Regions from separate parts of the Homo sapiens genome. Here region 2 is linked to region 1. Evidence: fine-mapped expression QTL. A gene starts in region 1. The other region holds a variant in brackets. All regions are shown on one strand. Distances are from middle to middle.

What was found. PIP is the estimated chance that this variant, and not a neighbour inherited with it, causes the effect.
Region 2: its variant is fine-mapped to the expression of LINC01876 in blood mononuclear cells (TOPMed, PIP above 0.99). The same link has a PIP of 0.9 or more in ovary, tibial artery, tibial nerve and whole blood.

Annotation. Positions count from the first base shown.
Region 1 is chr2:156,252,314-156,257,555 of GRCh38, forward strand. LINC01876 (long intergenic non-protein coding RNA 1876) reads right to left here and starts at 2,618. Exons shown (of 4, transcript NR_110250.2): 1 at 2,465-2,618.
Region 2 is chr2:156,273,245-156,278,486 of GRCh38, forward strand. No RefSeq gene overlaps it. Among named protein-coding and RNA genes, the nearest start is that of LINC01876, 21 kb to the left of the region's middle. The variant C/T (reference allele first, on the strand shown) is at 3,000.

The DNA of each region.
Region 1 (5,242 bases):
TATTATTATTTCTTCAATAGCTAAATGAATATGAACATTTTCTATTTCAGCTCCACAGCCTCTGAAAACTGTTGATGCAAAGCAAAAAGACTTTAGCCAAAATTTTAATATAGGCTTTTTCAAACACACAGTCAAGTGGAAAGAATAACATGATAAAATCCATATAAACTCCAAATGAATTCTGAATTCAGTTACTTTTAGAATTTTCCGTATTTGGCAGAGGTTGGTGGCACATGCCTGTAATCCCAACACTTTGGGAGCAGGCAGATCACCTGAGGTCAGGAGTTTGAGACCAGCCTGGCCAACACGGCGACACCCCATCTCTACTAAAAATACAAAAATTAGCCAGACGTGGTGTCATGCATCTGTAATGCCAGCTACGCAGGTGGCTGAGGCATAGAATTGTTCGAACCTCTGAGGCTGAGGTTGCAGTAAGCCCAGATGGCACTACTACACTCCAGCCTGGGTGACCAAAAAAAGAAGAAGAAGAAGAATTCTTCCATATTCTCTCTCTCTTCTTTAATTTCTATTTTATTTTATAAACATATCAAAAATTGGCAACCATTTAATATTTATAAGATATGAGGGACATATGCCAACAAGTAAAAGATCAAAACCCATGAGTATCCAATGGAAAAACTATTATGTAAAGAGATGATCAACCACACTGATTTTTATGTGGATGCAAATTAAAACATGAGGCACCACTTTATATACATCACTTTGACAAAAACTAGAAATATCACCAAATGTTTGTGAGATTATGGAGAAATAGGAATCTTGTGCATCGTGGCAGGCATGAAGAGCAACAGAGCCCTTTTAGTCTGGCAGTGTGAACTGTGGTATGGAATGTGCATCGCCTAAGACACAGCAATCTTTCTCCTCAGTATATGTCCAGAGAAATATGTGCAGAGATACCAAAGGAGTTGTGTGTCATTATGTTTATCACAGCATTATTTGTGATAGAAGGAAGTTGGAAGCAATTTAGGTGCACTTTGCTAGGGAAATAAAGTAGAATAAATGTGTACTATGGAATACTATGATCAGAGCAAAATGACACATAGGAAAATAGGCATAAATCAAGAAAACATAGTGAAGAATAAGAAAATCAAAAAATGAATGAGATTAAAATACGCTATCACTTATATAAATATAAAGCATACAAATATAAAACAATATTTTATATTTTTCAGATTCCATATATATACATATATATGTGTAATCTGAAAAAATACATATATCCAAATGCAGTTGAGTGGTCAGGGGTGGCTTGAAAATAACAAGAAGATAAAAGGTGAACAAAGAGAAAAGAGGATAGCATACCATGAACAGAGGAATTTGATTGATTTTGTTTTCTGCAGATAATTTTTTAACTTCTCAATAAAATAAAATAAAAGTAATGTAAAACTCTACTTAGTTCATTTGCAAATTTCTGCCTGTCATAAACCTTGTGCCCATCAACAATGCATAATTTCCTAATGGTTGATCATTTCTGTATATAATTACTTTTCTGTTAAGAACTCTTGGGCTTGCAAAATAGACCCCAAATAGCCAATTCAATCCTAAGCAAAAAGAACAAAGCTGGAGGCATCACGTTACCCTACCTCAAACTATACTACAGGGCTACAGTAATCAAAATAGCATGGTACCAGTACAAAAACAGACACACAGACCAATGGAACAGAATAGAGAACCCAGAAATAAGACTGTATACCTGCCACTATCTAATCTTTGACAAATCTGACAAAAACAAGCAATGGATAAATTTATTGAATGGGGAAAAGATTTTCCATTCAATAAATAATGCTGGGATAACCGGCTAGCCATATGCCAAAGTTTAAAACTGGACCCCTTCCTTACACATTATACAAAAATTTACTCAAGATGGATTAAAGGCTTAATTACAAAACCCAAAACTATAAAAACCCAGAAGACAACCTAGACAATATCATTCAGGACATAGGCATGGGCAAAGATTTCATGACAAAGACACCAAAAGCAATTGCAACAAAAGCAAAAATTGACAAATGGGATCTAATTAAAGAGCTTCTGCACATCAAAAGAAACAATCAACAGACTAAACAGACAACTACAGAATGGGAGAAAAATTTTTGCAACCTATGCATCCTACAAAGGGCTAATGTTCAGCATCTACAAGGAACTTTAACAATTTCCAAGAAAAAACAACCCCATTAAAAACTGGTTGAGGAGGAGCCAAGATGGCCGAATAGGAACAGCTCCAGTCTACAGCTCCCAGCGTGAGCGACGCAGAAGACGGGTGATTTCTGCATTTCCATCTGAGGTACCGGGTTCATCTCACTAGGCAGTGCCAGACAGTGGGCGCAGGTCAGTGGGTGCGCGCACCATGTGCAAGCCGAAGCAGGGCGAGGCATTGCCTCACTTGGGAAGCGCAAGTGGTCAGGGAGTTCCCTTTCCGAGTCAAAGAAAGGGGTAAAGGACGCACCTGGAAAATCGGGTCACTCCCACCCGAATACTGCGCTTTTCCGACCGGCTTAAAAAACGGCGCACCACGAGATTATAAGCCGCACCTGGCTCGGAGGGTCCTACTCACAGGGAGTCTCGCTGATTGCTAGCACAGCAGTCTGAGATCAAACTGCAAGGCGGCAGCGAGGCTGGGGGAGGGGCGCCCGCCGTTGCCCAGGCTTGCTTAGGTAAACAAAGCAGCCGGGAAGCTCGAACTGGGTGGAGCCCACCACAGCTCACGGAGGCCTGCCTGCCTCTGTAGGCTCCACCTCTGGGGGCAGGGCACAGACAAACAAAAAGACAGCAGTAACCTCTGCAGACTTAAATGTCCCTGTCTGACAGCTTTGAAGAGAGCAGTGGTTCTCCCAGCACGCAGCTGGAGATCTGAGAACGGGCAGACTGCCTCCTCAAGTGGGTCCCTGACCCCTGACCCCCGAGCAGCCTAACTGGGAGGCACCCCCCAGCAGGGGCACACTGACACCTCACACGGCAGGGTATTCCAACAGACCTGCAGCTGAGGGTCCTGTCTGTTAGAAGGAAAACTAACAAACAGAAAGGACATCCGCACCAAAAACCCATCTGTACATCACCATCATCAAAGACCAAAAGTAGATAAAACCACAAAGATGGGGAAAAAACAGAACAGAAAAACTGGAAACTCTAAAACGCAGAGCACCTCTCCTCCTCCAAAGGAACGCAGTTCCTCACCAGCAACGGAACAAAGCCGGATGGAGAATGACTTTGATGAGCTGAGAGAAGAAGGCTTCAGACGATCAAATTACTCTGAGCTACGGGAGGACATTCAAACCAAAGGCAAAGAACTTGAAAACTTTGAAAAAAATTTAGAAGAATGTATAACTAGAATAACCAATACAGAGAAGTGCTTAAAGGAGCTGATGGAGCTGAAAACCAAGGCTCGAGATCTACGTGAAGAATGCAGAAGCCTCAGGAGCTGATGCGATCAACTGGAAGAAAGGGTATCAGCAATGGAAGATGAAATGAATGAAATGAAGCGAGAAGGGAAGTTTAGAGAAAAAAGAATAAAAAGAAATGAGCAAAGCCTCCAAGAAATATGGGACTATGTGAAAAGACCAAATCTACGTCTGATTGGTGTACCTGAAAGTGATGGGGAGAATGGAACCAAGTTGGAAAACACTCTGCAGGATATTATCCAGGAGAACTTCCCCTATCTAGCAAGGCAGGCCAACGTTCAGATTCAGGAAATACAGAGAACGCCACAAAGATACTCCTCGAGAAGAGCAACTCCAAGACACATTGTCAGATTCACCAAAGTTGAAATGAAGGAAAAAATGTTAAGGGCAGCCAGAGAGAAAGGTCGGGTTACCCTCAAAGGGAAGCCCATCAGACTAACAGTGAATGTCTCGGCAGAAACCCTACAAGCCAGAAGAGAGTGGGGGCCAATATTCAACATTCTTAAAGAAAAGAATTTTCAACCCAGAATTTCATATCCAGCCAAACTAAGCTTCATAAGTGAAGGAGAAATAAAATACTTTACAGACAAGCAAATGCTGAGAGATTTTGTCACCAGCAGGCCTGCCCTAAAAGAGCTCCTGAAGGAAGCGCTAAACATGGAAAGGAACAACCGGTACCAGCCACTGCAAAATCATGCCAAAATGTAAAGACCATCAAGACTAGGAAGAAACTGCATCAACTAACGTGCAAAATAACCAGCTAACATCATAATGACAGGATCAAATTCACACATAACAATATTAACTTTAAATGTAAATGGACTAAATGCTCCAATTAAAAGACACAGACTGGCAAATTGGATAAAGAGTCAAGACCCATCAGTGTGCTGTATTCAGGAAACCCATCTCACGTGCAGAGACACACATAGGCTCAAAATAAAAGGATGGAGGAAGATCTACCAAGCAAATGGAAAACAAAAAAAGGCAGGGGTTGCAATCCTAGTCTCTGATAAAACAGACTTTAAACCAACAAAGATCAAAAGAGACAAAGAAGGCCATTACATAATGGTAAAGGGATCAATTCCACAAGAAGAGCTAACTATCCTGAATATATATGCACCCAATACAGGAGCACCCAGATTCATAAAGCAAGTGCTTAGTGACCTACAAAGAGACTTAGACTCCCACACATTAATAATGGGAGACTTTAACACCCCACTGTCAACATTAGACAGATCAACGAGACAGAAAGTCAACAAGGATACCCAGGACTTGAACTCAGCTCTGCACCAAGCAGACCTAATAGACATCTACAGAACTCTCCACCCCAAATCAACAGAATATACATTTTTTTCAGCACCACACCACACCTATTCCAAAATTGACCACATACTTGGAAGTAAAGCTCTCCTCAGCAAATGTAAAAGAACAGAGATTATAACAAACTATCTCTCAGACCACAGTGCAATCAAACTAGAACTCAGCATTAAGAATCTCACTCAAAACCGCTCAACTACATGGAAACTGAACAACCTGCTCCTGAATGACTACTGGGTACATAACGAAATGAAGGCAGAAATAAAGATGTTCTTTGAAACCAACGAGAACAAAGACACAACATACCAGAATCTCTGGGACACATTCAAAGCAGTGTGTAGACGGAAATTTATAGCACTAAATGCCCACAAGAGAAAGCAGGAAAGATCCAAAATTGACACCCTAACATCACAATTAAAAGAACTAGAAAAGCAAGAGCAAACACATTCAAAAGCTAGCAGAAGGCAAGAAATAACTAAAATCAGAGCCGAACTGAAGGAAATAGAGAC
Region 2 (5,242 bases), 21 kb after region 1:
TATCATTTCCAGAGAATTCAGTAGCAAGTGCCAAAATGAAATTACATGTGGCTGAATCTTGTTTTAGGTTCTGTTTCTGAATATTGGAGATTTCAAATAGGAATAATGTGGAAAAATCATGCTTCCAAATGGATATCTAGGTAATGAGCATTTTAACAAATGACAACGCCTTGATTTGTTGAAGCAGTGCAGAACAGGAGAAATGACTGTAGGTTTACATCTTGGCTCAGCCACCAACCAGAGTGTTATTTGGGGCAAGTTATAGAATATACGTTTGGTGAAATGTGAACAATAGAACCAACAACAAGAAGTTGTGATGTGTTTTAAATGAAAGAACATAAGTGAGTCATTTCATGCCTGGCTCACGGTAAATAGCCAATAAATAAGCAAATGGTCTATATCTTGATTATAAAATGTTATACATTTGTCAAAACTCATCAAACAATATTCTTGAATATTACTATGTGTAAACACCCTAGTAAACCTGACTTTTAAAATAATGATATTAAAAATGAGAGGCTAGGCAGCCAGAATCACAATCAAAATTATATCACAGATCCCATCTGCTGAGGACACCACAACCAATGAGGCTAAGCATGGAACATTAGGTACTCCTGCTGACACTGCTTGACCTGCCACATTACCAGAATAAATTCCCATCTTTCCATGCTTCTCTGCATCCCTAGCTCCAAATTCAGAAGTCCCAGATGGATGGAGATGATTTGTTGAAATAGATCACATGCAACACCACGACTGTGAAGAACCTTAGGAAAAAGCATCCTATCTTGTTGGTTTCTGTAGTAAGAAAGCTGGCCAGAACTCAAATGAAGGAGAATTCTCAAACACAGAAAAAGCATTTTAAAAATCAACTACACTGCAACATTTAGAAATTTTTGCAAATTAATAAGAAAAAGACAGGCACATCAATATAACATTAAAGTATATAAAATGGCAATGCCCTTATCCCAAACATAATAACATTTGAAAATATTTGATATTTAATCTCACATTAATTACTAGTAATGAATGTTAAGTTAAAATTATAACATATTTTAAACATAAACTTGGCAAATCGGCTTTTTATGTGTCCAGGTTTGAAAAGGATTTGGGGAAATGAATACTTTAATAAACCGAGATGGCAGTATACATTGCTATTATAACATTTCTTGAGAGTACTTGGCAATACCTATTAAAACCTTCAAAAATGTTCATGCTCCTTGATCAAGCAATTTCATTTCTATGGATTCAACCTAATAAAATATTTTTAAAACTACACAAAGACAGATACACAAGTTTTGCTTCTAATAGCAAAATTTGGGGAAATTACCAAGGTCCAATTGTAGACAATTGATTACATAAACCATATGACATTCTTCATACTAAAGAATATTAATCACATAAAATTGTGTTGTGAATAATATTTAGTGACATGGAAAAAATAAATGTCCACTTCATCAAGTAAAATAAAGTTTATCAAGATTTGTGTACCTCTGATAAAATATCTTCACTTACATGGAAAGATACTGCAACTATACATACAAAATGTTAAGAGTGGTATTTCTGAATGGTGATAGCCTAAGTGGTTTTTTGTTTTGTTCAACTATTTTTTTTAAAAAACTATTTAACAAATGTGTCTTTTATATTGAGAAAAACAACAAACTTATTTTTTGAAGTTAGAAGTTGTCCTCTCAGCCTCCAAAGACTCATTTCCCTTAACTAATCATTATGTATTTATCATCTCTGGATGTATCCAATTCCATTTTAAAGCTAGTTTCACATTTTCCATCAAAATCACCTCCTTCAGTATCAAATTTCATATGTTTACTACCTGCAGCAAATTACATATTTTTTATTTGTGTTAAGATTTCCTCTTTTAAACTTCAAAAGAAGCTTGCATAAGAAAGGAATTAACATTTATTGAACACCTACTATGTGCCAGGAACTATTTAAATCCCATTCACATATGTTAGTTCATTTGCATTTAAGTCTGGTTCCAATTATACATAACTTTCATAATTTGACAGGCGTCAATCATTTTTCATTTTCGCCTGCATATTGCCAGACAGATGAGAGCACATATTTTTAGATTGTCCTCAGATGGCAGCACTCACATTCCCTTGATTCAGTTCAGGTGCCCTTTTCTGGACCTGCTCTAGCTATTCTTCTGGTTCCAAAATTCCACACATTGTTCTCCTGACTCTAATACTCTTTTTGATAATGCCCCAAAATTGCTGGCATTTGGGGAAGTAGGCTGCTTTCCTGTGGGAGAATCTACTCTTGGAAATCACTCAAGTAACCCCCAGTTCATAAGAATGAAAAGATTAGCAATATATTTCATCAGTATATTTTAAATATAAATTAAACCTACATCTCACACATCTGAGTCCCTGTTAATAACATAACAACAAATGCTTCCACGGCAATATATTTCTCAGTTCCTATTTTTAACGAGGTTCTACCTTCTGGAAGATGATCTTATTCATTCATTCTCTGTGCCTTGTCTGGACAACAAAGTAGATATGTTCTATGCCAAATTGATCTGGAAACCCGAAGAAACATAATTATCATTAAGCAATACTTTGGCTTCTAGGGTCAGGAGAAATCTCAAGGATTGGAAACTGAAGACTAAATCTGTTCATTTGGTTCAGCAATGCAGTCATTCTGTATTAAGAAGCTATGGCTAAAAATGACCCAAAATCACAGAACACCTCTGTTCTTTCTCTATGTCTCTCTCTCCAACAAAACATGTAAAGTAATTACAGTGATTGAGTTAAAAGGTTCTTGAAATTATGGTTATGCAAAGGATGGCAGGGAGTCACAGAATGACCTTGGTAACCCCAGCAAGCTGATCTCTCTACAAGATCATCCTAAAAAACTTTGGTTTCTATTCTTCAGGAGCTAATGAGCTAAGGAAATTTGATAACTAACACATGACTTTATATTTCAGTATTAAAACTTTATTACTGCAATGAATATGGGTACTGGGCCATAGAGCCAAA[C/T]CCCCAAAAAAATCTCCAAATGGAGCTAATGAAAATTATGAGGCAGACCAAGAGGAAATCAAGCAGAAGTCCTAAAATAAATCAAATACTCCATAAAGCCATACATGAATGCCAATGTCTATGAACAGGATTACCATATGCCTTATAGACCAATCATGTTATATGAGGCTTTTACTATAAAACTCATAGAATCTAATTGATTCTCAAGGCTTTAAAGGAATTAGAATCTGGCCAAAACTCCACCATATTTATAAGAGTCCTCTTCAATATAACCATCAAGGGACCACCCGGCCTCTGCTTAAAACTGCCCAGGGATAGGGAGCTTATTAACTCCTGAAGCAGCCTATTTCAGCTCCAGAAAGCTCAAATCACTAGAAAGTTCTTTTATTACTAAACTGAAATCTGCTGCTGTGATCTTTCTGTATTCATCCTCTAGGAAGACAGTACATCTGAGGGTTTCCTAAAATGAATGCATATGGTTACTAAAAATTTCTAATGTGTATGCATATCGTGAATGTATACATTTTTCTCCATCAAATGTCAAAAGCATTTATCATATTCACAAAAGTTAAGAATCTCCATTGTAGGGTAATACAGAATAAATCTAAACTTCATCCTGCATGAAAGATACCTGAAGACAAAAATCACACACAGTCTTTGTGTGATTATGAGTCCTCCTTTTTCAAACCAACCATATGTAATTCCTCAACCTGTTTCTCACTTCAGCAGCTTATTGAACTCATTACATTTTTCCAACATGTTAAGTGCCACCTGTATAATATAGTCCCCAAATTAAACACAATACTCTGGATATTCTGCAGCACAAATAAAGCAAGTTTGTCACTGCCCTCTTTCCTGGGTGCTCTACATCTGTTAATGAAGCCTAAGCACTGAACTGTTTCTATCAGTTGGGAAGTTGCTAGCTCTGTGGCCAGGCATTGCTCTATACAAAAGTGAATAAGGACCCAGGAAAGTGGGGTGGCAGTCCAGCCAACAGAGCTGTTCACTTCACTAGCCAGGTGCATGGCCAGGGTCGGGGAAGTCCAGAGCTGTTGAGTCATGGGCCAGCTCTCTTCCATAGGTAGGAGGAAAACCTTAACATATGTACAAGCTGCAAAAGGTCTCTAGGCACCTACTTACTACCACCTAATATTATCAAAATGCCAGGTTGCATCTGTCAATAGACCATCTCTACACAACACTTAAGCAATAAGTCAATCAATCAATAAAAGTTCTCTTCTCTATTCCACAGACTTGATGCTTCCTTACCAGAATCTTTGCTAGAGGACAGAAGAAAGATTTGAGTTCATCTTTCTAACTTTTCTGTATTAATAAAGGAAAGAAAATGAGGTGTAAAAGAGGCACCCAGAAAGACATATCATCTGATAAGAAAGTGATTCTTCTGATTCCTCTACCTTGAACCACCTTCTTTATTAGTTCCTCCACTAAAAGTTGCTAACAAAATTGGTCCATGCATGAGACTTACATGACACTATAACTTGCTAATGGGCAGTCTGGCTGTACTTTAAAAGAAAGTTTTCATGACCTATGGATTCTCTTGCCGTCCTGTCTTGGACCAGGCAGCACCTGCCACTGGAAAGAAGGGAGATGGTAATCCATTTCTTTTATTCCATGTAACTGAATAGATAAACAGACTTAACATCCTTCTGGAATGCAACTAGAGTTGCCAATTTTTGCAAATAAAAATACAGAATTGCTAGTTAAATTTTAACATCAGATAAAGAATAAATAATTACTCGTGTAAGTATGCCCTGTGCAATATTTGAGATATACGTCACAGTGAAAATGTATGTATTGTTTATCTGATGTTCAAATTTAACTAGCTATCCTGTATTTTGCCTGACAACTACACACCCAATTATTTCAACCCTTCTTTTCTACTTTCCTTCTCTCTTTCTCTCCCTCTTTCTTTCCTCCTTCATCCCAATATCTTTCTTTTTGTGCCAGCATATACATCAAGGGTTTGGAGGTTCTAAGATCTGAACTAGGACCAAAAAAAAAAGAGTCTAAGAAATTCAAAGTGGACCTCAAGCCCAAGCACATTCTCCAAATCATCTTTAAGCAGAACTCTGCCCTTGGCATGGTGGTAGAAGACTCGTTATTCAGTTATTTTTAAACTTGTACTTTTTTTTTGTTTGAATAATGTTCCTCGACCACTGTAAAACTTCCTGATTAAGAGACAAGAGAGGAGAAGAGAGCAACAAAAAAAGATCCATACTTAG